7 separate regions of the Homo sapiens genome follow, and regions 2, 3, 4, 5, 6 and 7 are each reported to be linked to region 1. The links are microRNA targets in miRTarBase. Many come from high-throughput screens and were not tested one by one. Region 1 holds a microRNA gene; each other region holds the end of a gene's coding sequence.
The links. The annotated mature microRNA hsa-miR-7-5p reads UGGAAGACUAGUGAUUUUGUUGUU and lies in region 1 at 2,920-2,943, opposite strand. An mRNA with a match to its seed (bases 2 to 7 or 8) in the 3' UTR can be bound and repressed. Matches are read on the target gene's strand: a 7mer-m8 pairs with bases 2 to 8, a 7mer-A1 pairs with bases 2 to 7 and ends in A, and an 8mer does both.

Region 1 (4,492 bases):
GAGGCGGGTGGATCACTTGAGGTCAGCCTGGCCAACATGGTGAAACTCCGTCTCTACCAAAAATATAAAAATTAGCTGGGTGTGGTGGCACACGCCTGTGGTCCTGTGCAAGTGATCCACCCACCTTGGCCTCCCAAAGTGCTGGGACTGCAGGCATGAGCCACCACGCCCAACCGGATATTTGAACGTTATTCTGCAGTCAGTGGGGCTCTTGGAAGGGTGACAGGCAGGAGTGGAACTTGGTCAGATGTGTGTTCTGGAAAGTCCCCTCGCTGCATGTAGAGAATGAACAGGCTGTATGTGTGTGTATGCTCAGAGGGGAGACAGTGAGGAGATCCGGACATGCAGGGAGGCGGAGGTCATGGAGGCAGAGGGCTGGAGGGAGGTCATGGAGGCAGAGGGCTGGAGGAGAGAGGATGGATTTGAGCACAGTGACTCATCTTGGGGATCATGGGGAGTGGATGAGGAGGGGAGGATCTTGGGCATGTAGAGGGACTGTCATATTCATGGGCATGTCAGGGGAGGAAGCTAGGGGCTGGGCAGATTGAGTGTTCACTTTGAAATGATTAATTTGGGGTGACTGGGAGACACCCATAGCAGAATGTCCTCCTCCATTGAGGACCCCAGAAGGCAATATCTGTGTGCCTTTTCCTTTCTGAAAGACCTTGCATTCCCAGGGGGCAATTCTAAATAGACCAGGAAACCTCCCACAATTAGACCTAACCCAGACATTGAACCTCCCTCTGCTCAGCCCATTCATAAAGTGCCTCTGGCATTTAGGTGTCTTCTAATCTCATTTTCTCTGCTTGTTAATGGACCCACTGAGGCAGTACTCCTGGGAGAGAGAGAAAGATTTCATTTGTCTGGGGCTGAGGAGGGAGACGAGGGTTGCCAGAGCTAATGAGGAATCAGTGCCTTGTAATTGCTAATTAAATGAGCCTGGCTCTCTCTCTTGGGGCTGTGAGTTGGCTGGCCGGCCCTTAAGTGTCCACAAATTCAATTATGCTTCCCCAATAAACACCTCCAGCAACCATTGCCCTCCAGTATCTCTCTGGGGGAGACCTAGAAGAAGGATCTTCCTGTGTGTGCTGAGGCCATTCATTCATTTATTGATTGATGTATTGGTTTATTCTTTGATGCCTTTATTGATTCAACACATGCTTATTATATGCCTGCTGTGTGCCGGGCCCCGGACCAGGCGCTGGGGACACAGCAGTGAAAATACTAACATTGTTTCTGCCCTCACGGAGCTCACAGTGTAACAGGGAGACAAATAGACCTGTCAGTAGATAACATGAAAATAATTGGACTATGTGCTGCAGACACAATATCCCAGGTCTATGAGAATGTCAATACAGACTTCACGTGGGAAATGGTGAGGCAATAAGGATCGTTTCCCTTGATGAAATGGAGCTTGCAGAAGAAGGCAGGGTCAGTTGTGGGGAGCTCTGGTTGGAGGTGGAGGGAGTGCATTCCAAGCTGCAGGAACAGCAGAGGCAAAAGCCCTGAGGCTGGAGAACAGGTAACCATGTGCAGTTTTTCACTTGATTAGGGTGTTGCAGAGAATTGGGAGTGAGTCTTATATATTTATTTATTTATTTATTATTTTTTACTGAGATGAGGTCTTGCTATGTTGCCCAGGCTGGTCTCGAACTCCTGAGCTCAAGCTATCCTCCCACCTTGGCCTCCCAAAGTGCTGGGATTACAAGTGTGAGCCACCATGTCTGGCAAAGGTGGTGAGCCTTTATGATGTCATAAGTCACCACTGGGCACAAGTTCACACTTGTCCTATGATTGGCCCATGACACTGATGGGTAGCAGACAGGAAAGGAATCTTTTCTGAAACTTTTTTTTTGAAACAGGGTGTTGTTCTGTTGCCCAGTCTGGAGTGCAGTGGTGCAGTCATGGCTCACTGCAGCCTTGATCTCCCAGGCTCAAGTGTTCCTCCCACCTCCTAAGTAGTTGGGACTACAGGCATGTGTCAACTCACGGGGTCTCACTATATTGCCCAGGCTGGTCTCAAACTCCTGTACTCAAGCAATCCTCCCATCTCATCCTCCCAAAATGTTAGGATTACAGGTATGAGCTCCCACACCCAGCCCACTTCTGGAACTTTTATTGAAAAGTATCCTTAGGCTGGGTTCGGTGGCTCACACCTGTAATCTTGGCACTTTGAGAGGCTGAGGCAGGAGACCATGTCTTTACAAAAAAGAAAAAAAAAATGTTTTTTGAGACAGAATCTCTCTCTGTTGCCCAGGCTGGAGTGCAGTGGTGCAATCTTGGGTCATGCAGCCTCTGCCTCCTGGGTTCAAGGGATTCCCATGCCTCAGCCTCCCGAGTAGCTGGGACTACAGGTGTGTGCCACAACGCCCAGCTAATTTTTGTATTTTTAGGAGAAATGGAGTTTCACCATGTTGTCCAGGCTGGTCTTGAACTCCTGGCCTCAAGTGGTCCACCTGCCTTGGCCTCCCAAAGTGCTGGGATGACAGGCGTGAGCCACCCGGCCAAAAAAATAATAATTTTTTTTTTAATAGAAAAGTACCCTGAGAACTCTGGTCTAGGGAGGGCTTTAAATGTCATTCCCTCATTGGGTCTCCCAGGAAAGCGCCATAAGGTGGTTAGAGGTCTTGGGTTTAGAGTCAGGTATGTTCTATCTCCAGGCTTGTGGGGGCGTACGAGTGATGTGACAAACCCCATACATGGTGCATGGCTGTATGAGCACAGGATGTATGTCCTTGTTTGCTTCCCTCCTTTGCCTGTGCCTGTATCGCCTGGAGTGAGCCAGCCCCCCCACTCCGAGTGGAAGCGATTCTTCCCCGACCTCCCCGGTTCTCCCCCACTGGCCAGCCCATTGAAGGCGAAGGTCGAAGGGAGTCTGCGCTATGAGGCCGGCTGTGACTTGTTGTCGTAGTACATCAGAACAACAAAATCACTAGTCTTCCACACAGCACTAGACCACAGCCACTCTAATCTTCTTCACCACCCTCTGCCCCATGTCTGAGACCCCTGCCCAGCTCCTCCTTCTCACCTGAGCCAAGCTATGACACCTGAGTTTCCTGCCTCTGTGCTGCCTCCCTGTTTTCCATTCCCGGTTCTCCTGGAGAGAAGCAGGGTCTGATCTCCAAGGGCCCACCTCCCACCCAGGCACGTCAGAGACATGGGATTTGGAGTTGGACTGGTGGGGTTGACTTACAGCTTCACTTGTGGGCTGAGAGTCCCTGCGTGGGTTATTTTTCTGCCTTTCTCAGGGCCTTGGGTTCCCCAAATGTCACATGGGCACAGTAACACCCATGTCCTAGGGTTGAAGATGGCATGATATGATGTATGTAAAATGCTTGGCACAAGGTTTCTCACCGAAGTCTGGAAGAGACACCATAATGTCATCTTAGCAGGCAGCTGTTACCCCAGTGAGGTATCTTACCTGTTGAAAATTCCGGACTTGGGCCAGGCGCAGTGACTCACGCCTGTAATCCTAGCACTTTGGGAGGCTGAGGTGGACGGATGAAGAGGTCAAGAGTTTGAGACCAGCCTGGCCAACATGGTGAAACCCCGTCTCTACTAAGAATACAAAAATTAGCCGGGAGTGGTGGCATGTGCCTGTAATCCCAGATACTCGGGAGGCTGAGGCAGGAGAATCCCTTGAACCCAGGAGGCAGAGGTTGCAGTGAGCCGAGATCGTGCCACTGCACTCCAGCCTGGGCGACAGAGCAAGACTCCGTCTCGAAAAAAAAAGAAAATTGCAGACTTCTGTGTGTGCTTATCTGGAAAATACTTTGTTTAAAAATCCATTACATGAGGTGCAGGTCTCCAGAAATGCCAGGCACCTCAGACCACCCTCTCTCGTCCTCCCCCTGCAAAATCAGGGTCAAAGGGCTCTCCCGTTACCTGGAGGAGCTGTCCAGGGTTCTGGAGACGAAACGGAGCCCGCTGGGAACTGTCCTGAGCCCCGGTGCTGAAACAGATCGCGGTTCTCTTCTCGGACCTCCCGAGAGGCGCTGTCCGGATATTTGGTGCTGAAATAAATAGCATTCTCCTCCTTCGGTCGGTGGAGAGCTGTCCCTCGTGCTGAAGAAAACTTGATTTTCCTCTCTCTTTCCCCGTTCCCCCACCCCTCTTCGTTCTCGGTTCCTCCGATTCTTGGGAAACCCCACCCCCACTCAATTTATTTCCCCTCCTAGCTTCTTCCTGGGGAGCTTCAGAATGGCAATGGGGTGGCGGGGGGGAGACACAGAGGGGTCGCAACTAGCACTGATACCTGCTCCTCACCCTGTACCATGTCCCCAGAACTTACCTCCCAAGCAGTCAGCCCTGCTGGTCTCTGCTTTCCAGACCGTCAAACTTCGCCGTCTCTGTCCCTTTCTGGGAAAATGTCCATGCGCCAACCTGCAAACCAGCCTCATTCCCGGCATCCCACGTCCCTCAGACCACCCCTCCTCCCACGCAGCTGCGGGCCTCCCCCTCTGTGTGCCTCACCTGCTTCCAGTCTTGTTGG
Region 2 (4,492 bases), not on the chromosome of region 1:
GACCTCCCACCACAGCTGTCAGTGAATTTTTTTTTTTTTTTTTTTTTTGAGACAGGGTCACTCTGTTGCCCAGGCTGGAGTGTAGTGGTGTGATCATAGCTTACTGTATGTAGCCTTGAACTCCTGGGCTCAAGCAGTCCTCCTGCCTCAGCCTCCCAAGTAGCTGGGACCACAGGCATATGCACTGTGCCCGGCTAATTTATTTTTTTTTAGTAGAGATGGGGTCTCGCCATGTTGCCCAGGCTGGTCTCAAACTCCTGGGCTCAAGTGATTCTCTCACCTTGGCCTCCTAAAATTCTGGGATTACAGCCATGAACCACTGCGCCCCACCTCCAGTGAATTATTCAAGTGTTTGGTTCTTCCTCCTGTGCCTAGCAGGTGGAGGGAAAACAGAACTTTGGTTCTAAGTCTCCTGAGAAGAACTGAGCCTTGTATAGCAATTCTTCAGCTGCTCCGTTCTTCTCTAACGTTTAGTTGGAAAAATGAGGCCCTGATTCCCATGAGAACCAACCAGCCAATCTCCTGACATGAGGTTGTACCTGTAGAACCCTGTTCCCTTAAGGAGACCAGAAAGCATTCCTGTCCCTTCCTCCCCCTTTTCCTGCCCCATGGCTAGAGGTGCTAATTGTAGTCTCTTTCTCTTCCCGTAGAATCATGATGAAACCTGGAGGAATTACTTTTCAGACATTGACTTCTTCCCCAATGCTGTTTACACCCACTGCTACGACTCGTCTGGAACGAAACTCTTTGTGGCAGGAGGTCCCCTCCCTTCAGGGCTCCATGGAAACTATGCTGGGCTCTGGAGTTAATGACAACTCCCCAAATGCAGAGATTTACACTAACTTCCATTCTCAGTTTCCTTGTTTCTTTTGATTTTTTTTTTCCTAATTGTGTGAGGCTCTTGTGTTTTAGTGGGAACACCAAAGTTTGCCTATAGTTTAGGCACTTAATAGGAAGAAGCTCTGTACAGAAATCTGAAAGTTGTTTTGCTTTTTGTTTTCCCCTTTGGTAATCAAAATTTTACTATCTTTTATTATTTCTGGCTTTTCAACCAAACATTGTTGCTAATCCCTATTTTTCTTTAAGTGACACACATTCTCCTGTCTCTGGCTTCTTCAGGCTGAAATGACATAGCTCACCCTTACTTCACTCTTGAGAGGTAGGGCTCCTTTATAATTACATGGTTGCTCTCAGACTTTCTGTGAAAGTTTGGGAGCTGTGTGTGTCTGTGTGTGTGTGAGAGAGAGATCTTGTCTGCGTGTGTGTGTGTGATCTTGTGTGCCTGTAGGTACTGTGTGTCACTGAAATTACCTGGAGTGAGGATTACTTGTAATTAAAATATTTATAAAAGAAACAACTTTATTCACAGAGTCCAGCTTTGGGACTAGTCTGTATCTTGTTTTTTAAGTCTAACAACACTGATAATAGGAAGTAAAAACAGAAAGGAAAAGAAATTACCACTGGGAAAATCTTTTTAGTTAGATTGTAGGCTTCCTGGGGCCTCCCATGCCAGGACTGCAAAGTGATCCAGCCCTACCTGTCTTCCCACCTGTGTGTCCCCCGTGTGGGAAGTTGGTGTCACTTCCCCTTCCCACCCTCACATCTGCTTAGCCAGTAGCCACACCCCTAAAACATCAGACTCACCATCCAGGTGCAGCTCCAGAGGCTACAAAAGGCTTCATGGGACTTGAATCCCCATCCTAGCTTCTCTCTCCTTCCCCTCAAGACCTGATCTGGTTTTAAGGGGCCTGGAGCTGGGAGTCTCAAGTCTGCTAAGATTCACATCCATAGCCCCCATGGCTTTGAGGAGAATCCTCTCTGCCATTCTTCCAATCTCCCCAGTGGGTTTTGCTATTATTTTCTAAATTGGGTTAAGTCTAAGAAGGTGGGGGTGAGCAGGGGGTTTATCTGTGTGTAGTGAGTGCTTCATGTGTGGAATATTCATTTTCTTACTGCAGTGGGACTTGGGGTTGAAGCCACCCCTCCTACTCTGTTGGCTTAGCCCTGAGATGGTGACAGGCTGGCCTGCAGTCAGCATCATTGTGCATGTGACAGCATCAATGTGATTAGTAATTTGTCTGTTCCTCCCTTGAACTGTCTGTTTAGTCTGAGGTTTTTAAACTTGCAGGCAGCTGACTGTGATGTCCACTTGTTCCCTGATTTTTACACATCATGTCAAAGATAACAGCTGTTCCCACCCACCAGTTCCTCTAAGCACATACTCTGCTTTTCTGTCAACATCCCATTTTGGGGAAAGGAAAAGTCATATTTATTCCTGCACCCCAGTTTTTTAACTTGTTCTCCCAGTTGTCCCCCTCTTCTCTGGGTGTAAGAAGGGAAATTGGAAAAAAAATTATATATATATTCTCCTTTTAATGGTGGGGGGCTACTGGAGAGGAGAGACAGCAAGTCCACCCTAACTTGTTACACAGCACATACCACAGGTTCTGGAATTCTCATCTTCGAACCTAGAGAAATAGGTGCTATAAACAGGGAATTAAGCAAAATGCTGGATGCTATAGATCTTTTAATTGTCTTAATTTTTTTTCTATTATTAAACTACAGGCTGTAGATTTCTTAGTTCTCACAGAACTTCTATCATTTTAAACTGACTTGTATATTTAAAAAAAAAATCTTCAGTAGGATGTTTTGTACTATTGCTAGACCCTCTTCTGTAATGGGTAATGCGTTTGATTGTTTGAGATTTTCTGTTTTTAAAAATGTAGCACTTGACTTTTTGCCAAGGAAAAAAATAAAAATTATTCCAGTGCACAATGGTGTGAGTGAGTATTGTGTAGCCAGGAGCCTGCCAAAAAGGCCCCACATGACTAGTTGGAAGGTTGGCTTGAGCTGTTGGGATTGCTTGTGGCAGAAGGGGAACACAAGCCATTACCTCCAGGTTAGAGGCAGGTCAAGTGCAGGCACAAATACTAAGACCTGCTTGCTCTGGGTCCCCAACTCTAGCCCAAGATGAGTTGCTCTGAGGTCCAGCTGAGGGTGGATATGCCCAGGGTACTGAAGTAGTGTGACGTTACTTCTGTTACATAAGTAAGGGTTGGTAATAGGCCCTGTCTGCTTGGATGGTGCCCTGAGAATGACGCTGAAAGTGCTTGCATAGTACTCTGGGAATAGGATATTAATTTTTGTTTTTTGTAGTTGGAACCATAGACCTTCACTGCCCTTTGTAAGGGGAAGACACAGTGACCACAGTGAGTGATGCTCTTCTAGAGCCTATTTGGAGCTGTAGCTGAGAGAAACTGCCAAATCATACCACCCTTCCTCACACAGTCATCTCTGGGAAACCCACCAGGGCTAGGCCGCAGAGCCTGGCAAGGCCGTCCCTATTCTTCTGCCACATGGTACTTGTTCTTTCCAGGGCAAGCTGGACACAGCTGCTCTATGCACCTGCCTTAGAGACTGACTGGTTCAGAACATGACACATGGGTTCCTATATGATCAAAGGCTGCAAGACAGGAAGGGGAGATGAGTAAGTTAAAGCAATTTGAGAGGGCTCCCCAGAGGAGACGAGTTACATTTGGAAAGGGCTGAAACTAGCCTTTCCCAAAATGAATTTAGAAGGTATTTGTAAAATCTTCATTGTCAGCCGGGTGCAGTGGCTCACACCTGTAATCCCAGCACTTTGGGAGGCCCAGGTGGGTGGATCACCTGAGGTCAGGAGTTTGAGACCAGCCCAGCCAACATGGTGAAACCCCATCTCTACCAAAAATACAAAAATTAGCTGGGCGTGTTGGCGGGTGCCTGTAATCCCAGCTATTGGGAGGCTGAGGCAGGAGAATTGCTTGTACCTGGGAGGCAGAGGTTGCAGTGAGCCGAGATTGTGCCACTACACTCCAGCCTGGGCAACAGAGTGAGACTCCATCTCCAAACAAAATATATTGTCAAATCATTTTTGGGAAATGCAGATTAGAACAAAAGCAGCTTCATTCCTTTACCATCAGGTTTTTTTATTTTTAAAAATTGGAAAGGAGAGCTTTATTTCTCAAAGGGTTGCAGTCTGCAGGGTGGCCATTCTGACAGTCTGGGAAGTACAGCCTCTGGCCAGAAGTCAGAAACACAAACTGAGGGAGGGGCAAAGGGGACAGGAATTTATGTTGAACAAGGTGGCTGAATATATGTATTTAATAAGCTATAGGAGGAGTCATGAATATTTATAAAAGGAAAAAGGTACACATGTGCAACTGAACTCTTAGGTTTTTGGTATTTTACTATGGGACTTGTTCCATAGAACATGCTCACAAAGAAAGGTGACTTAGGGAATGTGGGGTTGACTTGGTCTAGGCCTCTGGCCTCCATGGAATCTTGGCCTTGCTCCCACTTTCCAGCCAGACTTTCCAGCAAAGCATGTATCACAGAAGGGCTTTGTGGGCTTTATGGGGTCCCTTTTTAGCCAGCAGTCCCTACTCCCTTCTGTGAAAGAACTTCTTGTTCTCTCTCAGGCACTTCTTGTTCTGTCTCAGGCCGCATGCCACAT
Region 3 (4,492 bases), not on the chromosome of region 1:
CTAGCACGAACCCTCTTCCACAGAAAGCTCTTGGTATGCATTTATTGGAGACAGGGAGGAGGTGAGGAGGATAGAAATTCTTCATCTGACACTTTCCCCACATTTCCAAGGCCATAAAGCAATGCAGGGCCTTTGAACTGTAGGCCATTTTCTAAAAGTCTGCTCGTGTGGGCACACAGGGTCTCTGGAGAGGGAACTCCTGGAATGAGGCAGGTCAGGGGGAGCACCAGGGGAAGTTGGATGCCAGGAATACGTGTTCCCTCTTGGAGATCTCACAAGCTGGGGGAATTTCTCTGGAGGAATGTGAGTTGCACAATCGACCCTTTGAACACTGATTAGAGGCGACGGCTTTGTATGTCTTCATATGAACAGACTTGTAGTGGGGCAGGGACAAGGCTACTCTCCCTACTGTAGGGATTCCAGATTTTTGGCCACTCAATTCCAGAGCCCATGAACAGAAGTCACTGCTTGGACCAAGCCATGGTAACTGAGGTGACGCCATCTGGGTCAGCGGCATCAGAGAATGGGAAGCTGTGGAGAGAAGGGTGTTAACATTGGCTAATCAGAACCAGGCCCACAATTGGGCAGCTCACACATACCGTTTTGCTTGTTGACATACCAACCCAATGACAATAGCCTTGACCATACAGATGAGAATGCTAAGGACCAGAATGTTAAGAACTTGACCAAGCTCACACTGTAAGTCACTGAGCCCAAATTCAAACCTAATTCTGACTTCAAATATCTTGTTCTCTTCACATTGAATCTCTATCTCCAAGTAATTTCTTTTTCATCAGAATTTGAGTCTAATGCTCCTATTCCAGGCCAGAGGGAAGAGAGACATGGAAGGAAGGCTCTACTACCATGTATACAGACGCTAGAGAACTAGGCACTTAGGAATGTGTCTGTTGCCTGGGAAACCACACCTGGCACAGAGACAGTCCTGAGATCCCTGGCACTCACTAACCAGCCCCTTCCAAGGGAGGAAGTAACTTCAGCCAACTCCCGAAGGGCCTAGAGGAGTGGCATTGCCTCCTACCCCAAAGACTGCTTCCACTTCAACCATCAGCCACCAACACCAAATTTATCCAGAGGCTTCTTACTTGTCCAGCACTAGAAAAAAAAACTACACAGCAGTGGGATCAGAAATCCTACAGTCCAGCAGACACCTCCAATATCTTCGGCAACCTCTCCTCACAACAGAAAGGGCAGCATCTAAGGGATCCAGAAAGCCAATGTGCCAGGACTTGCCAGGACTCAGAGAAGGTAATCGACATTGGGCATTGCTTCAGGGGTGCTGGGAAAGCTCTCCACCCTGCAGACCCACACCAGGTGGATGGTATTTGAGATACCAATTCAGAACTGCTTCTCTGTGGCTTAGGGCTCTAGTGCAGGTTAAAATGCAGGGGACACTTACAACTGTGGCAGCCATTGCAAACTTAGCATGAATTGCTTTCCAGTCTAATTACGAAAACAGGTTCTGAAAGGGAGGTAAAAAGACAAAAATAGGATGACTCTGGATGTTTACTGTGGAGGCCTCAAATAGAAAAGTCAAAGTGACTTTGTATACATTCCCCATTCACAGCTTGACAGGACGGGAAAGTTCACCACTTAACGTTTTTAAGAGTTGATGGAAGCCACCAATCCAATAAGGTGTCCCCTGGAGCCCATCCAGAATCCATCCTTTAGTCCATGAGAGTTGAGCTCCAGCTTCCCTCTCCTGACTCCATATCCCAGCTGTGGTTCTGTGGTTTGGTGTACATTGTGCAGGTTGGAAGTGGCCTGTTTTCCTGGAAAGAATGAAATGTGCCCAAATGGAAAGACAAACCAGGTCCCAATCTTGGATTTGGGAATATGGGTTCCTGGTTCCCCAGAATCCAGCTGAGGAATTTTCTGACTTCAGTTAGACAGAGAAAATGACATGGGAACAGATGTGCAACTCCAAACATGCTTGACAGCATAGGCTACGAACCTGGGCAGCCCCTATACCAGGCCCCTCTCCCAAGAGCAAGCTGGCTCTGAGAATCTGAGAAGTGAAGAATTCAAGCTTTTCCTACAGGCTTATGACAGAAATTATGCCATTTGGGTATGTATCCAAATTATATAATTGTGATTCTGGGTCATAGCTTTCATAATCTTTCAATGTTTGCAAAATGAACAGATATTAATATCAGAAGAAAGGGGGAACACATCGTTCAAGTCATTGCTATTGTTAATGTGGAAACTACTTCATAGTGCTATCTTCACTTCTGCCTGAACTCCAAGAGGTCTTTAAATATATTTTATATATATGTATGTTTTGGAGACATGGTCTCACTCTGTCGCCCAGGCTGGAATGCAGTGGCACAATCAGGGCTCACTGCAACCTTCACCTCCTGGGCTCAAGCGATCCTCCCACCTCAGCCTACCAAGCAGCCGCACGTGTCACCATGCCCAGCTAATTTTTGTAGTTTGTGTAGAGATGAGGTTTCACCATGTTGCCCAGGCTGGTCTCAAACTCCTGGGCTCAAGCAATCCACCCACCTTAGCCTCCCAAAGTGCGAGGATTACAGGTGTGAGCCACCGCGCCCAGCCTAAATATCTCATTTTGAGGCATACACAGAAATCATCCTCAGGATTCTTAGGCTCTCTCCTTCCATCTAAGTATGTCCCACAATACACCATGCATATGAATTTGACTCAATAACTACACACTTGAGGGAAACATAAGTATAAATTTACTATCCACCTAGTGGTAGCTAGGTAAAATTGCAGGCATAAAGATAAAAAAGAAATCATCAACTTTGTAGTTCCTCAGCTTCAAACCCAAACCTGCAAGGGAGAGGAGAGACCCAGACGCCTCAGGGACCAGGCAGATAATACAAATAAATGAAACAGGCCAGGTGAGAGAGTACAAGTCTTGCCAAAAGAAGAAACCCCTACTTAGTTTCAATTGATTGTCCTCTTCTGAAAATGCAGATCAGAATTGCCACACATTCTGACCGATCGAGAGAGGCCAGAAATTCTAATTTTAATGTGAAACCTCTTGATTTCTTAGACGGTGGCTCAATTTTCTTGAAAACACTAGGTGAGCTAAATAAAGCTGACAGTCCACCAGTTTTCAATACTCCTCTTGCAGAGAGTGAATGGCATCTCCCCTAACTGTAGTATTAGACTGCCACTCACCAGCCACAGTTTGCAACTGCAAAAGAGGCATAAACTGACGGGGATCTCCTGCTTTACTATGCACACACAGCTGAACTCTCCAGCCGTGGAGAACAACTAACTCTATAGGAAAAAGTAGAAGGCTAAGCTGAGCCATCCAGGGATGGCGGCAGGGGCCTTCATGGCTAGCTGCTGGCCTGTAGGCACTAAATTGCAGACTGCTCCTGCAGGAAGCCTTCAGGGCCTGGGAGGCCTTTATCTGGCTCAGAAGCTAGGGCTGCTTCTCGAAGGACTTCCAAATGCTCCTCAGCAGCCGACAGAGACTGGTCAATCCAGTCCAGGCCTCCCGTCAGATGGCAGGCATTCCTTGTCACCAGCACCAGGTGACTGACAGACAGGAGCAGGGCAGTCGTCCTAGGGAAAAAAAGAAAATAGGGTCAGGTTTCCTAGGAAATGAGGGACTTTGCACAAAAGCCCAAATAGATAGACTTTTTGACTAGTATTCCCCAAACTGCACACCCTTCCCTAGGATGTTGGTAGGTATGCAATTTAAAGTTGGCTCCATGCTCAAATAAATTTGGAGATGGCTGGGTTAAACATGGTTAACTGAAGCCTGCCTCAGAGCCTTCTGAGATGTACCTGGTAAAGCTCCAAGGAGAATATAACAGGCTGTCTCTCACAAGCTTATTTAAGACTGTGGAAGCCATTTTCTGCAGCACACCTATTAACATCTCCCCAAAGAGCGCTTTGTGAAACAGTTCAGATATAGTCAATCAGATGAGCATATTCCCCAACCGCTGCCCACTGAAACATAGGACAGACACACCCTCACTTAAACATTCCTTATTGATTACAAATTGGTAAGGCCCAGGGCTGGTTTATCCAACTCAAAAAAAAAAATGTAACTGAAAACCAAAGTGAGGAGTAGATTTTTCAGTGCTGAAAGATTCACTGTAGAATACCTTTTATATGGTTAGTACCATGATGCATTTGAGAATACATTACAGATTATTAACCCACGGACAAAGCTCGGCAGCAGTAGGAGTGGGGCAGAGAAACCAAAGCTGAAGCGCTGTGACCCACTGCCGATCTGGCAACTGTTACATGTGTATGACACAGTCATATAAATCCAAGGCACGAAAGAATCTATATTTCTTAAATGGGTTGCATCTGGTATAGGAACATAACAATTTCATAGGGCTAAGTACACTCTGTGTATGCGCATGTCTGGTGGCAGGTGAGCACAGCTGTGGCTGACCTGTCACCTCCATTCTCACTGCTCTGGGAACCACTGCCCCACCGCCCAACTGGGTGGCACTCACAGCTAAGGCATGTCTGCTTCTGGGGT
Region 4 (4,492 bases), not on the chromosome of region 1:
TGTATTTCATGATAGCCTTGGGTAACACAGACAGCTATATTTTGGCTGCAATGGCATATGATCGAGCTGTGGCCATCAGCCGCCCACTTCACTACACAACAATTATGAGTCCACGGTCTTGTATCTGGCTTATTGCTGGGTCTTGGGTGATTGGAAATGCCAATGCCCTCCCCCACACTCTGCTCACAGCTAGTCTGTCCTTCTGTGGCAACCAGGAAGTGGCCAACTTCTACTGTGACATTACCCCCTTGCTGAAGTTATCCTGTTCTGACATCCACTTTCATGTGAAGATGATGTACCTAGGGGTTGGCATTTTCTCTGTGCCATTACTATGCATCATTGTCTCCTATATTCGAGTCTTCTCCACAGTCTTCCAGGTTCCTTCCACCAAGGGCGTGCTCAAGGCCTTCTCCACCTGTGGTTCCCACCTCACGGTTGTCTCTTTGTATTATGGTACAGTCATGGGCACGTATTTCCGCCCTTTGACCAATTATAGCCTAAAAGACGCAGTGATCACTGTAATGTACACGGCAGTGACCCCAATGTTAAATCCTTTCATCTACAGTCTGAGAAATCGGGACATGAAGGCTGCCCTGCGGAAACTCTTCAACAAGAGAATCTCCTCGTAACCAATGTGAGGGCCTACATTGGATACCGTAGTCACCAGTTACGGTATATTGGAAATCCAGTTCTGATGTCATCCTCCTACGAGAGGCAGTCTCTGATCTTTCTAGCCTGAAATTCCTAATCTCAGAACTCTTATAACATTTTAATAAGTTAATAATAAGTGATTATTGAAATTACCACTTTCAACTCATTGCTGCTCTTTTTGGCAGAGTGGCAGCACAGGGATATAGGGCATATGTCCTGATGAGCAGAGTCAAGTTGGGAAGATCTGAGCCTCAGCTTTCACATCTACATGTTAGGAATAATAAGTGCCCTACATGGGTCACATGGTGTGTTGATTACAATAGCTCATGCTTCCAAGATTATAAATCACTATTCATGTGTCCATTTTTATTTGACTGTTAAGTTTAATCACCCTTATTAGGCTTGCAAGCCTCTGAGGGCAGGAGTTGTTTTTACACATCACTGTACCTTCCCAATCTTGGTCAGATAAAGTGCATCCAATAAATACTGGTGGAAGTGGAATGAATAAGATATTAATATCTGAAACGTAATATTATAATTAGGGATAATCAAACCAGACATTATTTTCTCATCCTTTAAACCTTTCAAGAAACTCCCATTCACAAATGCTACAAAGGGAATAAAATACCTAGGAATACAGCTTACAAGGGACATGAAGGAACTCTTCAAGGAAAACTAAAACCCACTGCTCAAGGAAATAAGAGAGGACAAAAACAAATGGAAAAACATTCCATCCTCTTTTATACAAAGAATCAATATCATGAAAATGGCCATACTGCCCAAAGTAATTTATAGATTCAATGCTATTCCCATCAAACTACCATTGACATTCTTCACAGAATTAGAAAACACTTCTTTAAATTTCGTATGGAACTAAAAAAGAGCCCGTATATCCAAGACAATCATAAGCAAAAAGAACAAAGCTACAGGCATCATGCTACTTGACTTCAAACTATACTACAAGGCTACAGTAACCAAAACAGCATGGTACTGGTACCAAAACAGACATGTAGCCCAGTGGAACAGAACAGAGACCTCACAAATAACACCACACATCTACAACCATCTGATCTTTGACAAACCTGACAAAAACAAGAAATGGGGAAAGGATTCCCTATTTAATAAATGGTGTTGGGAAAACTGGCTAGCCATATGCAGAAAAATGAAACTGGACCCCTTTCTTACATCTTATACAAAAATTAACTCAAGATGGATTAAAGGCTTAAACGTAAGACCTAAAACCATAAAAACCTTAGAAGAAAACGTAGGCAATACCATTCAGGACATAGGCATGGGCAAACTTCATGTTTAAAACACCAAAAGCAATGGCAACAAAAGCCAAAATTGACAAATGGGATCTAATTAAACTAAAGAGCTTCTGCACAGCAAAAGAAACTATCATCAGAGTGAACAGGCAACCTACAGAATGGGAGAAAATTTTTGCCATCTATCCATCTGACAAAGGGCTAATATCTAGAATCTACAAAGAACTTAAATTTACAGGAAAAAAACCACCCCATGAAAAAGTGGGCGAAGGATATGAACAGACACTTCTCAAAAGAAGACATTTATGCAGCCAATAAACATATGAAAAAAAGCTCAACATCACTGGTCGTTAGAGAAATGCAAATCAAAACCACAATGAGACACCATCTCATGCCAGTTGGAATGGCGATCATTAAAAAGTAAGGAAACAACATATGCTGGAGAGGATGTGGAGAAATAGGAAGGTTTTTACACTGTTGGTGGGAGTGTAAATTAGTTCAACTATCATGGAAGACAGTGTGGTGACTCCTCAAGGATCTAGAACCACAAATACCATTTGATCCAGTGATCCCATTACTGGGTATATACCTAAAGGATTATAAATCATTCTACTATAAAGACACATGCACAAGTATATTTATTGTGGCACTGTTCACAGTAGCAAAGACTTGGAACCAACCCAAATGCCCATCAATGATAGACTGGATGAAGAAAATGTGGCACATATACACCATGGAATACTACGCAGTCATAAAAAAGGATGAGTTCATGTCCTTTGCAGGGACATGGATCAAGCTGGAAACCATCATTCTCAGCAAACTAACACAAGAAAAGAAAACCAAACACTGCACGTTCTCACTCATAAGTGTGAGTTAAACAATGAGAACACATGGACACAAGGAAGGGCACATCACACACCAGGGCCTGTCAGCGGGTTGGGGGCAAGAGGAGGGATAGCATTAGGAGAAATACCTAATGCAGATGTCAGGCTGATGGATGCAGCAAACCACCATGGCACGTGTATACCTATGTAACAAACCTGCATGTTCTGCACATGTACCCCAGAATTAAAAGTATAATAATAAAAAAAAGAAACTGACCTGGGGAAATATTTCTGTGCTTACTTCATAGTTTAGACTATATCTAAAGATAATACAACTCCTCCTAAAATCTTACTAAGACAGTCACTAATAAATAATAATAATAATAAACAAAAACAAAAGCAAAGAAAGAATGACCACAGGATTCAGGATAAGAGAAAATTCAAAAGGAGAAATGGGGGAATAGAACTAGGGTTATCACATAGTTAGATGTAGGTTATTACTACAGTCCTAATATTCAGATTAAGTGGTGAGTCCAGGGTGTTCATGAAATTATGATTGATTGATAGTTACATAGATACATAGATAAAAGCTCTGAATGAAACAATGAAGAGAGCTTCTCTTTAATCAAGAATGGATAGATAAGAGAGCAGTAAGGGAGGAGGGGAGAGTGATGAGATCAGGAGTTTAATTACACATCTCTTAAAGCAATCTAGGGAAGAGAGAGTGAAGATACAAAATGAATACAAGACTAATTTTGCTGTTACGGATAAACTCAGTAAGATCAAATGGAATTAGGTGTTTATTGCCCATGGTGAAATAATAAGTACCAAAGAGGATAGATACTATATAAGAAGGTATCCTTCTTTGCATCTACGATCCAGATGCAAACGTAGTGTGGAAATAGAAACCATAGAATGAATTATTATGATAGCAATAAGATGTCTAGAAGATTTTGAGTTCGAGTCACTAAAAGGAAAAAGATGCCCTTAATGACAGTAGTGAACAAAACAGCAATTTAAGAAAAAAAAAAAAAGTTCCATTTTGGGTGTGTTTTTAGTGTTCCAGTGACTCTTGTGGATGTATTGGATTAAATAGTAGAATGAAGATACAAAGCTTTGGAGCAAAATTAACAGAACATGGATCAGAGGGGAGCTGATAAGTCAAGTTTTCAACAAAGAGACTTGCAGAATGACTAAACTTCAAGAAAGGGAGCCAGGATGGAGAATGAGGATTCCAGCTGGGGAAGGAAGACACTTGTACAGTCAAGACTTGATGGTCCTCCAAGTCAAACTATGTGTCTCTCTCCCTTTTATATCAGTCAAGGGACATAGCACAGTGTATTGTCCTGCACTACTGAGCACTCAAATACTTGCTTTGAAAAAAATGAAACAAGGAAAAGTGGTAAATGCTACAAAAGAAGTTAATGTGCCACGTAGGTTCAGAGAAAGTAGCCATTTCATTACATATGAAATGTACATATGCATGTGGGCGTGTGCATTTCGTCTATCACATATATTATTGTCTCTGAATTTTCAAAATAGTCCTGTGGCACAGATGGCAATAGCCCTCCTTCCAGATGAAGAAGTCACATCTCTCAAAGATGAAGTGATTTAGCCCATGTCTTTCAATTAGAAAAATGCAGATCTTGTATTTGAGCCCAGTTTTCCTCATGCTGAATGCTCTTCCTCTGACTCCACAGCTGGCCTGTAGAGGGAATATAGAATAATGAGGAGAGATACCTAAGGAAGCCA
Region 5 (4,492 bases), not on the chromosome of region 1:
CCAGCTTGCCCCTGCAAAAACTAGATAGTTCATAGGAGATGACAGCAGAATACTAAAACTTTCCCAGGTAGCAGCCCCGATGCCTCAAGCTCAAACACAGCAGTTGATCACAGTTTGTCCTACCAACCCTTCTCTTGGATGTTCCCCAGGAAGAAGATTGATCAGAATCCTTGGGAAACATGGGGTGGGAGCAGTGACGGACTGCAAATAGGATGGAGGAAATTTGGGGATGGGGTGATGGAAATATTGTAAAACTAGATTGTGGTGATTATTGCATGACTATATAAATTTGCTAAAAATCACTGAATTGTATACTTAAAATAGTTGAATTTTACAGCACATAAATCATCCCTCAATAAAGGGAAGAGTATAGAAAATACATTTATTGGTGGTAATAACTTGTGTATTTATGTACTATAGGTTTTATGCCTCTTCTTCCAGTTACCAACACTCTTTCATTAGGGGATCAAATCCTCCCATCAAACAAGTGGAGACATGCCCAGTGGAGCAGCTTTGCTGTGAAATTTTGAAAATTGAAAACTCTTCTCCCAGCACCTTCTTTGGCCCTTGGCCCCATTTATGATAAGAATCCTCCACTGTATTATAGTGTTGAATTTTTACCATATTGTGCCCACTAGACTTTTATAAAAATATATTCTAATTGTTCTTCATGCACATTTAACCTTGCTAAATACAGGATGATCTTTGTCCAGTTTCACACCTTACCCCTAAGGTGCAATCATAATTCATACTAATTCCCAAAGTCCTTTGCAGTTTTTTTCAGACTGGATCTGCTAGATTTGAATTATATAGGCGGCTCACTCTTACCAAGAGTTGCATTTATATAGGCGAATGTTAACGATCTTTGAAAGATAGAACATAATATACAAAACATTTATATCCTTAAACAATATTAGCACAGTCCTGTAACTCTTCTTAAACTAGAGTGACTATGAACTTAGTTTCCTAAAACAGATGTTATGGAGGAGCCAGGGTTTGAATCTGAATCTTATGATTCCCTGTCGAGTGCTCTTTTTCCTATTCCGTACTATCTCTCCTGCATTATAATTTAGGGAAGAATGTGCTAAGTGCCATTAAAAAGTCAGATAAAACAGACGAAAGAGGCATTTCAGATGAGGATGAGGGTGAGATCTGAATTAGATCTCAAAGGGTACAAATGTTTTAAATATGAGGTACTGCATGGTGGATGTGAAGAAAGGAGAGCTTTTAGTGGGCAAGGAAAGTGCATTCCCAAAAAAGGAAACAATATGGGGAAAGGCACAGAAGTTTGGGCCCAGAGCATGGAAGGCAATGAACACTGACTATGGAGTAAGGATTTGAAAACCTGTCCATAAAATATATTTAAGTGAATTATGACACATATCCATGAAATATTATACAGCCTTCAAAAATCAGAGTTATGAAGACTGGAGATACAGGAAAATAGCTATCAGAAACACTATGAGTTCAGATAACCTACTTAGGATAGTGTGTGAAAGTGCCTTGTAAACTGCAAATAACAATTTTTGGAAGGTTTATCATGGGGAGTGAAAAGAGAGGAACCATGATAGCTTTAGAAAAGAAAAGGGTTGCAGGAAGGATATTTTTTAAAGGCTAGGGTAGGGTTCAATGAAGAGTTATAAAGGAAGGTGTGAGAAGATACAAATGATTGCCGGAGCAAATCCTCAAGGAGATACGATGGGTCAGAGTCAAGAGGACAAGAGACCAAACAGACCAGAGGAAAAAAGAGGAAAGTGCGTAAGTCCACAGACGGGAGAGGAAACTGCGTCCCCATGCAATCTCCTGTGGTGAGAGCCAAAGCTTTACTCTGTGAAGGCAGAAGCTGTGGCTATTTCCAACTTTCACTTCTCTCTTCCGTCCCCCTACTACAAGAAGAGAGTGACACTCCCGGCCATGAGCTCCCTCAACTTACTACACCACGGCTTATGTTTGCCCTGAACATGCCTGTCCTGATTTCAGAGGAAGAGCTGTCCCTGTCCCTAGGCTGTGCTGTGGAGCCTAGTCTCTCTTTTCTCCTCTGACATCTTGCTTCATCAATGATCCCTCTCTCTCCTTGATCTTCAGTCTCTTCCCTGATCACTTCTCAGCATATACATAACTGCTTATGAAATACCTCCACTCAAGATGCTTCACAGCTACCTCAAACTCAGGGTATCTCTCCTTACAAACCAGCTATCCCTCTGGTCTTCTCTACATCGTTCATCCAGAGCTCTTCTAGGCTTCCTAGACCCTTCTCTCTCCACTCCCACAGCTAACTAATAACCCCATCCTTTCCATGACAACAATAATAATAGCTTTTATTTATTCACCACTTCCTTCAGGACCAGATATATACTCTACATATATTTTCATCTCGTATTTATCTAATTTAAGTGCAAAACTAACTTTAGTGAGATAAAATAGTTTTTCTCTTCCACCTAAGGGGTGTGTGTGTGTATATATATATATTTTTATATGTATATATTATATATATATATATATATATATAATTTTTATTTTTTTTTTTTTTGAGATAGGGTCTCACTCTGTTGCCCAGGCTGGAGTGCAGTGGTGAGATCTCAGTTCACTGCAGTCTCTGCCTCCCAGGTTCAAGCAATTCTCTGGCCTCAGCCTCCAGAGTAGCTGGGACTACAGGCACTCACCACCATGCCCGGCTAATTTTAGTATTTTTTTTTAGTAGAAACAGGGTTTCAACATGTTGGCCAGGCTGGTCTCGAACTCCTGACCTCAAGTGATCCACCTGCCTCGACCTCCCAAGGTGCTGGGATTACAGGCGTGAGCCACCGTGCCCAGCCGTAAGGCATATTTTGATCAATAGCTATACCTCCAGTCCGGTTCTGGGATTTATCAAAAGGATAATATGTATGTTATATACATTTATTTTTCTAGTGCATCTCACAAAATCAGCTCTCTCTGGCTCCTTTGTTTAAATTCGGAACTAATTCCTCAAAACTATGTGAAAGTGGAAATTATAAGGGTTAGGTCTTAAGAGACCAGTCCTTTCCTTTCATCTGGGTTTTTCTGTTTTGAGACAGGGTTTCACTCTGTTGCCTAGGCTAGAGTGCGGTGTATGATCATGGCTCACTGCAGCCTCCTCCTGGGCTCAGGCCGTCCTCCTGCCTTAGCAACCTCCCATCCCCACCCCCTTATACCACACTCCCCTCCCCTGCCACCCAGTAAGCTGGGACAACAAGTGCTTGCCAGCATACCTGGCTAATGTTTCTGATTTTTAGTAGAGATGAGCTCTTCCTATGTTGCCCAGGCTCTTTATTTATTTATTTATTTTATTTGAGACAGAGTCTTGCTCTGTCGCCCAGGCTGGAGTGCAGTGGCACGATCTGGGCTCACTGCAAGCTCCGCCTCCCGGGTTCACACCATTCTCCTGCCTCAGCCTCCCGAGTAGCTGGGACTACAGGTGCCCCCGCCACCACACCTGGCTAAGTTTTTGTATTTTTAGTAGAGACGGGGTTTCACCATGTTAGCCAGGATGGTCTCGATCTCCTGACCTCATGATCCACCCGCCTCGGCCTCCCAAACTGCTGGGATTACAGGCATGAGCCACCGCGCCTGGCCACCCAGGCTCTTTTATCTGCGTTATAATTCCAAAGGATTTCAGAGTTGGTGTCTTTTAAAATTTGGTTGGTATTATGAAGAATCTGCCTGCCTGGACAGAAAAAGGATGTCCTGCAGAGGAAATAAAAAGTTGAAGTGAAATCCATGACTATTTTTGTGCATCATTAAAGGCCTGATAATATGGGAGTGGTATTCTGTGAGAATATTTGGTCAAAAAACCACTGTATTCTTCTGTTTATGTTAAATAGAATATATTTGATTATTCACAGGAAGAAATTAGAAGAAAAGTAATCACATCTTTGGAATGTAAGACTTTACCCTTTATACAGATTTTAATATATCATCTGCATGGATTGATTTGGCTAGCATATGTAGTAATGACTCTTCCTGGAGTGGTTGACAAAAATGATTACTGTTTAATCTTCAGGCTTGTTTAATCTAAATCATTTCTATTTTCTTTAAAAAGAGCTGGCATCTAAAAATGAAAGGAAAAATGTTTCGTAAGTTTTGGGGAAAGACTAACATTCAGTGACAGAACCCCTAAACAGCCAATTTTTTATTACATATGGAAAAGGGGTGCAAAGTAAGCCTATAGATAGATGAATTCCACAGATAATACCAACACTATATTTTGTTTGTTTGTTTTGAGACAGAGTCTCACTCTGTTACCCAGGCTGCAGTGCAGTGGTACAATCTCGGCTCACTGCAAGCTCTGCCTCCCAGGTTCAAGCGATTCTCCTGCCTCTGCCTCCCAAGTAGCTGGGATTATAGACACTCAACACCATGCCCGGCTATTTTTTGTATTTTCAGTAGAGACGGGGTTTCACCATGATGGCCAGGCTAGTCTCGAACCCCTGACCTCAAGTGATCTGTCCACCTCAGCCTCCCAAAGTGCTAG
Region 6 (4,492 bases), not on the chromosome of region 1:
GCAGGGCTGGTGCTCAACGGGCTGGCGCTGTACGTCTTCTGCTGCCGCACCCGGGCCAAGACACCCTCAGTCATCTACACCATCAACCTGGTGGTGACCGATCTACTGGTAGGGCTGTCCCTGCCCACGCGCTTCGCTGTGTACTACGGCGCCAGGGGCTGCCTGCGCTGTGCCTTCCCGCACGTCCTCGGTTACTTCCTCAACATGCACTGCTCCATCCTCTTCCTCACCTGCATCTGCGTGGACCGCTACCTGGCCATCGTGCGGCCCGAAGGCTCCCGCCGCTGCCGCCAGCCTGCCTGTGCCAGGGCCGTGTGCGCCTTCGTGTGGCTGGCCGCCGGTGCCGTCACCCTGTCGGTGCTGGGCGTGACAGGCAGCCGGCCCTGCTGCCGTGTCTTTGCGCTGACTGTCCTGGAGTTCCTGCTGCCCCTGCTGGTCATCAGCGTGTTTACCGGCCGCATCATGTGTGCACTGTCGCGGCCGGGTCTGCTCCACCAGGGTCGCCAGCGCCGCGTGCGGGCCATGCAGCTCCTGCTCACGGTGCTCATCATCTTTCTCGTCTGCTTCACGCCCTTCCACGCCCGCCAAGTGGCCGTGGCGCTGTGGCCCGACATGCCACACCACACGAGCCTCGTGGTCTACCACGTGGCCGTGACCCTCAGCAGCCTCAACAGCTGCATGGACCCCATCGTCTACTGCTTCGTCACCAGTGGCTTCCAGGCCACCGTCCGAGGCCTCTTCGGCCAGCACGGAGAGCGTGAGCCCAGCAGCGGTGACGTGGTCAGCATGCACAGGAGCTCCAAGGGCTCAGGCCGTCATCACATCCTCAGTGCCGGCCCTCACGCCCTCACCCAGGCCCTGGCTAATGGGCCCGAGGCTTAGTCAGCAGGGCTCTGCCAGGGGCCGAAGGTCAGGACTCATCTGGGCATGCCAGCGTGGACACCCACCATGCCAGGGGTGGCAATCGGTTCCATCTCGATTGATTGGTGATGGCTACCCAGAGCACCGCATTGAGCGTCTAAGGCCACTGTGCTGTGGTTGATTAGCAATGTCTGCCACTGGCTCCGATGGGATGTGGTGGCCTGAATGCCGGTGATTTGCTGTTCCTGGGGTATAGCACGTCCACTGAAAACTCACAGGGGTAGCCGGGAGCTGCTCCTCACTTTGGCCAGTTTGTCTCCAGAAGGAGTTCCTCAGAAAAAAGGGCACAGTGGATTCCATTGATTAGAAGGATGAGATGAAAAAGAAAAAAGAAAAAAGGACAAAGATTATTTAGGTGCTGGGAATTCCCAAGAGAGTTAAGAAACAACCTGAATTCCCGAGAGAGCTAACAACAACAATGCTCCCTCCAACACACACACAGGAGGAAGGACAAGGACAGAAAGAAAAGGCCAGGGAGCATTCGTGTTGCATTAATGGAGGTGGGGGGGGGTGCATGTCTCTGCAAGACCCCCCCACCTGAGGCCTCCGTGAATTGCACGATAAAACGGCAGACACCCACAGGCCGCTCTGCTGTGAGCAAGCACTGTGATATCTAGGTTGACACTTGAACCCACAACAACCCACAAAGGAGACGCTACTTTTCATCCATTTCTTGGTGCTGGAGGGGTCAAGTGACACACACAGGGGCCACAGCTGGGAAATGGCAGGGTCAGAATGAAAACCAGCCCCACCTCCTCCAGTGCCCTTGCACCTCCTTCCACAGAGAGTGCACGATCATCCCAAAGCCCCCACTCTAGGAATGGCCTCAGAATGGCTCACCTGCTGCCCCAGGTAGAGGCAGTGTTCACAGCCCCATCCTATGGATAAGAAAACCAAGAACAAAGTCACGCAGCAGTGAACCCAGGCATGCCGGGTTGTGGCCACCATCTCCCCATGCAAACAGCCATTTTCCTCCCCCCGGGGGCAGAGAGGACGTGACCAGCTGCTCTGGCCCAGCTCACTATGAGTCCCCATGCCTTCACTAGGGAGGGAGCTTTTCTCTGGCTGGGGCCTCTGATCATCTCCTCAGAGCTGGACTCCAGGATTTCCTCCCACGTGCCTTCTGCCGAGCGTCCAAGCTCCCAGCCCTTTCAGGACTGGTAATGGGGAAGGGAGCCTGTGGTGAGGAAGAGGAGTGTGGGGCATCCCTGGCACTTCCGGCTCTGAGGCCCTGCCATCAGACCTGGCCATAGCCACTGAAGCAGGCGAGATGGGCTCAGGTCCTCAGGCCAGGCCTTTGGCTACAGAGAAGTCCTACACACTCAGGGTGACCGTGGCCTGTGTGGCTGGGAGCAGGAGGGGGAGGAGGAGGAAAAGGCCGGGGCTCCCCGATTCAGCTCGAGGCAGAGTCTCCTGACCCCAGTTTAGGGTCCTGGACTTTATATCCCCATGTTACAAATGAAGAAACTGAGGCTCAGAGGGAGAAAGGGGCTTGCCAAGGTCATAGAGTGAGTGCCTGAGTCATCCAAGGCCAGTATTGTCCTCACCAACCCCAGCTGTGGCCATGTGGAGCAGCTGGGGTGGGGGGCACCGGCCCAGAGGAGTCAGAGGCGTGCCCCGCAAGGTGGTGGAACTGGGAGTGCTGCCAGGGTTACTTCCTCCCTGGGTCCGGATGCCCGAGAAGCAGTGGGTATCACCATGGCCGCCAGCATTCTTGATACTTACCAGGCACCAGGCACAATTCTGGAACCTTCCCCCAGCCCCCAGCTCTCGGGTGCTGCTCAGAGAGGGGCCGTGGCTTACCAGGGATGCAGGGTTCCACAAGGCAGAGGGGCCCAGCGTTCAGGAAAGGACGTGGCTGGGGGACAGGGCTGTGCATGCAGAAAAACCCCGCTGACCACAGGTGCAGCATTCACGGCGACTTTCAGGCAAGCAGGCACCAACAGCCAGCGAGCCATCATTCCCAGGGCTGCGAGCTGGCACCCACGTGGTCACATGCCTAGAGCTGAGGAGTGAGGGGTCAGGGCTCAGGTGTCCTGCCCAGCCCAAGCCATGAGCTTCTTCCAGGCTCATGTGGCCCAGCAGTCCCTGAATGGCCTTGCTTACCTGGGACCCCTCCACCCACGCTCACAAGTCATCCAGGGCCAGGGACTCTGGACTCCATTCCTCCAGGAGCTGTGGATCCTCTTGCTCCATCTTAGGGGGCGCCCCAAGCCCCAGAGACTACCTGCCGGCTCCCACTCCCGCCCCTCAAGCAAGCTCTGCACGTGGCCTAGAGTATGACACCCCTCTGCCCTTGGTCCCGCACTGTACTGTGAAGACCTCTCCAGCCCAGGGCTGCAAGGAGGCAGGGGCCAGCGGGAAGGAGTGCTAAGATGAGGGGGAATGGCCTGGGCAAAGGTAAGGCCAAGCGCCCGCCTCGCTGGGGCCAGTGAAGGGCCTTCCATGCAGCTTCCCAGCCCCTCCCCTCCCCTACCAGTCTTCCCGGCCCCTTCCCCGCCAGTCTTCCCTGCCCCTCCTCCACCGGTGTTACGTGCCCCTCGGGCCTTTGGCCTCCCCATCAATGACCCCCAGCCTGGCTCCATTCCTGGTTGTCACTCTAATTCACGCTAAAGAGTGAATGGCTGACACTTGAGGATTGCTGTGCTTGAAGAGGCAGGGCTTGCAATTTTTCTGGAACAATCCCTTTCTTCAGGAGGAGGGGTCTCTAAGGCAGGTGAGCCAGGTCCCCTCCTTGTCCCCACATCTGAAATCCAATCATTCAACTTGGGTTCCTCGGGCCTCAGAGGCTTCTCAGACTGTAAGAGGCCGGGAGGGGAAGGACATCCTGTCCGAAGCGGCAAGTGCGTCCACTACCACTCATGCTGGAGAGGACAGGCCGCCTGTCTTCTGTGGCCAGGGACACAGGCTTGGGGCCCACCCTCAGACCTCTGAGAACTGCCTGCCAGCCCCCGATGCAGAACCCTTGATAGGCAAGCCTCAGTTTCTCCACACCCCACTCCTCTTTCTCCTCTCCTCAGCCTTACAGCTGGAGGGCAGGGGGCTGGGGAAGGGGGTCACCCCAATGCCCTGGACTGGGCCCCACAGCTCCCCCGGCTGCTTGCTTCCTTCTCCTGACGGCCGGCTCCTTCCCACTTCAGCCTCCTCTGTGGGCACCGAGGCCCAGGAGCTTCAAAAGTCAGACCAAGACTGTCCTTGGTCCCACAGGGGCAGAGGTGAGATCTGTGCGTGCCCCCTCTCCACACTCACGGGGACAGGGCGTGAGATCTTTGCGCCCCCTCCCCATGATCTCCCTTTCCAGATTTTCAAAACGCCCAAGTGACGTGAAATGGTGTGTGTATTTATATCCGACGTAAACAATCTCCTTCACGAGATGTCCTCGTCTGGAATTAAAGCTGTTTATTCTATTCTTGCCCACGACTCTGGTCCTGGGCTGGTGGGGGACATGGAGCTGGCGGAGGGTATGGAGCAGGGTGGCAGCCCTACGCACGCCCCAACTCTGTGTCCTGCGGACCAGCAGGGCTCCACAGGGAGGCAGCGGCAGTGGTTTTGTGGTTTTGTCATCCCTGCT
Region 7 (4,492 bases), not on the chromosome of region 1:
GAATTTCCGTACTGAAGATGGGGACTGGTATGGGAAGGCAAAAAGCATCACTCGGAGAGCAAAGGGTGGCCCAGGAATTCTCTGGATCTTTCTGGATTACTTTCAGACCAGCCACTTGGATTGCAGTGGCCTCCCTCCTCTCTCAGACCAATATCCAAGAGAAGAGCTCACCAGAATAGTTCGCAATGCAGATCCAATAGCCAAGTACTTACAAAAAGAAATGCAAGTAATTAGAAGTAATCCTTCATTTAACATCCCCACTGGGTGCCTCGAGGTATTTCCTGAAGCCGAATGGTCCCAGGGTGTTCAGGGAACCTTACGAATTAAGAAATACTTGACTGTGGAGCAAATAATGACCTGTGTGGCAGACACGTGCAGGCGCTTCTTTGATAGGGGCTATTCTCCAAAGGATGTTGCTGTGCTTGTCAGCACCGCAAAAGAAGTGGAGCACTATAAGTATGAGCTCTTGAAAGCAATGAGGAAGAAAAGGGTGGTGCAGCTCAGTGATGCATGTGATATGTTGGGTGATCACATTGTGTTGGACAGTGTTCGGCGATTCTCAGGCCTGGAAAGGAGCATAGTGTTTGGGATCCATCCAAGGACAGCTGACCCAGCTATCTTACCCAATGTTCTGATCTGTCTGGCTTCCAGGGCAAAACAACACCTGTATATTTTTCCGTGGGGTGGCCATTAGGAAGAACTCCAAATCAAAATGCTATGTAAATGTCTATGGGTGACAGTCTGCTGATGGTAGAAACCTTTCTTTTTAGTTCACAAGTCAGAGATTTGGACGGAGCTGACACAAAGAGTTTGGAGCTCCCCCATTTCTGGCTCTCCTTTCAGGGGTTCCTTCCCCAACCCTTTCAGCAGCGGTGGCTGCCCCCCATTCTGACCCCTGACTCTTCCAGCCAGAAAGATGGTGGTTTTCTAAAGGAACTTTAGCTGTCCTGCACAATGCCGATCTGTGTCTTGCATTTTGGGTAAAAGCCATAAAAATAAGAAACTCAGCCTGTGGCCTTTCTTTCTTCCAAGGCTGGGCTTCTTTTTTTAAGTGACTTCATGCAGTTTGTTGCTTTTAAAAATTTGTCCAGAATCGTTTTCTGCAGAAGCATGGTCTGTTAGGAGCTTACTGGCCGTAGCAGAAGCAATTGTTTCCTGAATTCTTGACATTTATCTTTGCTGTATTCATTTAGGGCTTGGGAGAGTCCGAAGATAATTCAGTCACTGTCAGATTAATAATTTTGTCAGGACAAAGAATACCGTTATGATTATTTAATCCTTTAAAATTGTGGTCTCCAGAGCTTGTTCTCAGAATGGCCCAGACCAAGCCTTAATTGTGATAGTGAATATTAATGGTCACTTTAAGGAGAAATTATAGGCCAAGATGAAATGAACATAAACCTGTTTGCCCTGGCTTTCAGTGGAAGATGATATTAGAGACCAAAATCTGGTTCTGAAGGTGTGTATCAGCCCTAAGGTGAACCAGACTTGGGAAAGATTGTCTTTAAAAATCAATGAGTTTATGTTTTAACTTCTCAGCTTAGTTCTATGCATTGCTCTATAACACACCTAGTTAAGTTTTATGTTATTCTTGAACTGTGATTTTTTTTCTATTTACTTTCATGGTTTGGTGGGCCATTGTTATGGACTGAATGTTTGTGTCCCACCCTTCACCCCCAAATTCCCGTGTTGAAGCCCCAACCTGCACTGTGGAGCTGGGGCTGCTAAGGAAGTAATTAAGGTTACATGAAGTCATGGTGGGGCTCTGATCTGCTAAGGTTGGTGTCCTTATAGGGAGAGACCCCAGAGAGCTTGTTCCCTCCCTCCCTGTGCATGCAAACAAGAGGGCATGGGAGCACACAGAGAGATGGCAGCCACCTACAAGCCAAGAGGAGAAGCCTCACAATCAAACTCTCGCTGCTGGCGAGAGTCTTGGACTCTGTCTTGGACTTCCAGCCTCCAGACTGTGAGAAACAAATTTCTGTTGTTTCAGCTTCTCAGTCTCTGGTGTTTTGTTATTGCAGCCTGAGAACACAGCTGTACGATTATTTGTCAAACAGAAAACACTGATACTTAACAATGCTAATGCAATTATTTATTTGCTTTTCAGTCTCTACAAAACGTTCTAAAACACTAATCTAAATATTAACAGTAAAATATTTGCATAACTAATGGAAACTAAGAAATCATATGACCAATATTTCACTTATTGGTAATCTTACTCTACTGATTTCCCCCCAGACTGTGATTTTTGAACTTCCTTGCCTTTCTCCTGTCTTTCTGTGTTTATTCATGGAATTCCAGTTATCTGGGCTTGAAATTGCAGGCTCTCCTAACTTAAGCAAAATCTGACAGATCAGCAAAATGAGATAAATGTTTCTTTTTTCTTTCTGACTGCATTAAATCAGATACAACTCAGCATTAAAAAGCTATCTTTGTAAATGTTGTTACTAATAAATTAGTCTTATAAGATCCCTGGACTTTGGAGTTGTTGCAATGTCTTTGAGAGTAATTCTTTAAAAGTCTAATTTCGACTGGTTGTATCTCTTTATGATTTATTGCCCCACTAACAATATTTGAAACAATATAATATTTTAAAATGTATAAATAATTATGAATTTTTGTTTAGAACAAAGAGGATTACTGATATTTGTTTCCCTATGAATGGCAAAAGGTTTAGCTTACTACTGCATTTCTGTTTTAAATAAAAAGTTGAGAGTTTGTGTCTCATTAAACTGAAAAAAATGGTCTTGTAAAATAAGTGCTTAAATGGGGGAAAAGGAGAAGACTGAGGCCAGTGACTCTGTGAGAGGGCCAAAACGAGCCAGTAAAAGATTAAGCAACATTAACTTTCAATTTTTTTTTTAAGAGACAAGATCTCACTATGTTGCCCAGGTTGGAATGCAGTAGTGCAATCATAGCTCACTATAGCCTCGAACTCCTGGGCTCAAGTGATCCTCCTGCCTCAGCCTCCGAAATTGCTGGGATTATAGGCATGAGCCAGTGCACTAGACTCAGTTGGGTTTGGATGGGTGCCTGCCCATCTCTGCAATCTGCCTCTAGACATCTGGGACCTACTTCACTAAAGATCTGAAAATCTACCCAGCCATTATAAAATGAAACAAAATGTTTTTATATTTTAAATTAACTTTTTATTTTAGAGTAGTTATAGAATTACAGAAAAAGTTACAAAGATAGTACAGAAAGTTCCTGTGTCCCCTTCATTTAGTTTCCTCTTTATTTTATTTTATTTTATTTTATTTTATTTTATTTTATTTTATTTTATTTTATTTTGACAAGGTCTTGCTCTCTCACCCAGGTTGGAGTACAGTTGGGTGATCACAGCTCACTGCAGCCTTTAACTCCTGGACTCCAGTGATCCTCTCACCCCAACTAGCTGAGAAGCTGGAACTGCAGGTGCATGCCACTACACCTGGCTATTTTTTTAAAAAAATTTTGTAGAGGACGGGGTCTTATTATGTTGCCCAGGCTGGTCTCAAACTCCCAGGCTCAAGCATTCCTCCTGCGTGGGCTTCCTACAGTGCTGGGATTACAAGTGTGAGCCATTGCAGTGGCTATTTCCCTGTTTTATTACTGTATTGTTGTGATGCATTCATCACAACTAAGGAACCAACCTTACTTAGTACATGACTATTAACTAAACCCCACATTTTATTTGGATTCTCCAGTTTTTTTTTTTTTTTTTTTTTTTTTTTTGAGACGGAGTCTTGCTCTGTCGCCCAGGCTGGAGTGCAGTGGCATGATCTCGGCTCACTGCAAGCTCTGCCTCCGGGGTTCACGCCATTCTCCTGCCTCAGCCTCCCGAGTAGCTGGGACTACAGGCGCCCGTCACCACACCTGGCTAATTTTTTGTATTTTTTTAGTAGAGACCGGGTTTCACCGTATTAGCCAGGATGGTCTCGATCTCCTGACCTTGTGATCCGCCCTCCTCGGCCTCCCAAAGTGCTGGGATTACAGGCATGAACCACTGCACCCGGCCTGGATTCTCTAGTTTTTCTCTAATGTCTTTGCCTACTCCAGGATCCCATCCAGGACACCATACTACATTTAGTGGTCATGTTTCCTTACACTCCTCTGACCTGTGATGCTTTATTTTTGATGACCTGGACAGTTCTGAGGAGTACTGGTCAGGTATCTACAAATAAAATGTCCTTCAGTTTGGGTTTGTCTGATTTTTTTCTCAGACTGGGGTTATAGGTTTTCAAGAGGAAGACCACAGGAATGAAGAGGTATTCTCATCACATCACATCAAGGGTATATGCTATCAACATGCCTTATCACTCATGATATCAACCTTGACCAGCTGACAGAGGAAGTGTTTGCCAGGTTTCTCTACAGTGAAGTTACTTTTCCTTCCTCCTATGTTGCTAAGTGCAGCTCACACTCAAAGGGTGAGGATTGAAGCTCCACTTTCTTGAGGGGGCCAATGTCTATATATCCTACAAAATAATTTATCTATATAAATTATTTG

Region 2: miRTarBase lists DCAF12 as a target of hsa-miR-7-5p. Seed matches in the 3' UTR shown: 7mer-m8 at 1,540-1,546 and 7mer-A1 at 1,826-1,832.
Region 3: the mRNA of TMEM98 is a reported target of hsa-miR-7-5p. The part of its 3' UTR that is shown has no 7-base or 8-base seed match.
Region 4: miRTarBase lists OR1A1 as a target of hsa-miR-7-5p. The part of its 3' UTR that is shown has no 7-base or 8-base seed match.
Region 5: the mRNA of CAGE1 is a reported target of hsa-miR-7-5p. The part of its 3' UTR that is shown has no 7-base or 8-base seed match.
Region 6: the mRNA of GPR20 is a reported target of hsa-miR-7-5p. The part of its 3' UTR that is shown has no 7-base or 8-base seed match.
Region 7: the mRNA of SLFN11 is a reported target of hsa-miR-7-5p. Seed matches in the 3' UTR shown: 7mer-A1 at 901-907 and 7mer-A1 at 1,024-1,030.

Annotation. Positions count from the first base shown.
Region 1 is chr19:4,769,151-4,773,642 of GRCh38, reverse strand. It overlaps MIR7-3 (microRNA 7-3), which reads right to left and starts at 2,973; the gene lies at 2,864-2,973. It overlaps MIR7-3HG (MIR7-3 host gene), which reads right to left. Exons shown (of 3, transcript NR_027148.1): 1 at 4,292-4,492; 2 at 3,886-4,013; 3 at 1,087-1,479. RefSeq lists a silencer at 3,812-4,106.
Region 2 is chr9:34,084,667-34,089,158 of GRCh38, reverse strand. DCAF12 (DDB1 and CUL4 associated factor 12) reads left to right here. Exons shown (of 9, transcript NM_015397.4): 9 at 651-2,772. The coding sequence ends at 809. Among named protein-coding and RNA genes, the nearest start is that of UBAP2, 38 kb to the right of the region's middle.
Region 3 is chr17:32,939,852-32,944,343 of GRCh38, reverse strand. It overlaps TMEM98 (transmembrane protein 98), which reads right to left. Exons shown (of 8, transcript NM_015544.3): 8 at 29-3,558. The coding sequence ends at 3,351. Among named protein-coding and RNA genes, the nearest start is that of TMEM98, 14 kb to the right of the region's middle.
Region 4 is chr17:3,215,922-3,220,413 of GRCh38, forward strand. OR1A1 (olfactory receptor family 1 subfamily A member 1) reads left to right here. Exons shown (of 4, transcript NM_014565.3): 4 at 1-2,975. The coding sequence ends at 629. Among named protein-coding and RNA genes, the nearest start is that of OR1A1, 11 kb to the left of the region's middle.
Region 5 is chr6:7,322,831-7,327,322 of GRCh38, forward strand. It overlaps CAGE1 (cancer antigen 1), which reads right to left. Exons shown (of 14, transcript NM_001170692.2): 14 at 3,829-4,069. The coding sequence ends at 4,028. Among named protein-coding and RNA genes, the nearest start is that of SSR1, 12 kb to the left of the region's middle. RefSeq lists a silencer at 1,767-1,876.
Region 6 is chr8:141,353,237-141,357,728 of GRCh38, reverse strand. It overlaps GPR20 (G protein-coupled receptor 20), which reads left to right. Exons shown (of 2, transcript NM_005293.3): 2 at 1-1,259. The coding sequence ends at 882. Among named protein-coding and RNA genes, the nearest start is that of GPR20, 12 kb to the left of the region's middle. RefSeq lists enhancers at 3-624, 625-1,246.
Region 7 is chr17:35,348,558-35,353,049 of GRCh38, reverse strand. It overlaps SLFN11 (schlafen family member 11), which reads left to right. Exons shown (of 7, transcript NM_001376007.1): 7 at 1-2,745. The coding sequence ends at 694. Among named protein-coding and RNA genes, the nearest start is that of SLFN11, 23 kb to the left of the region's middle.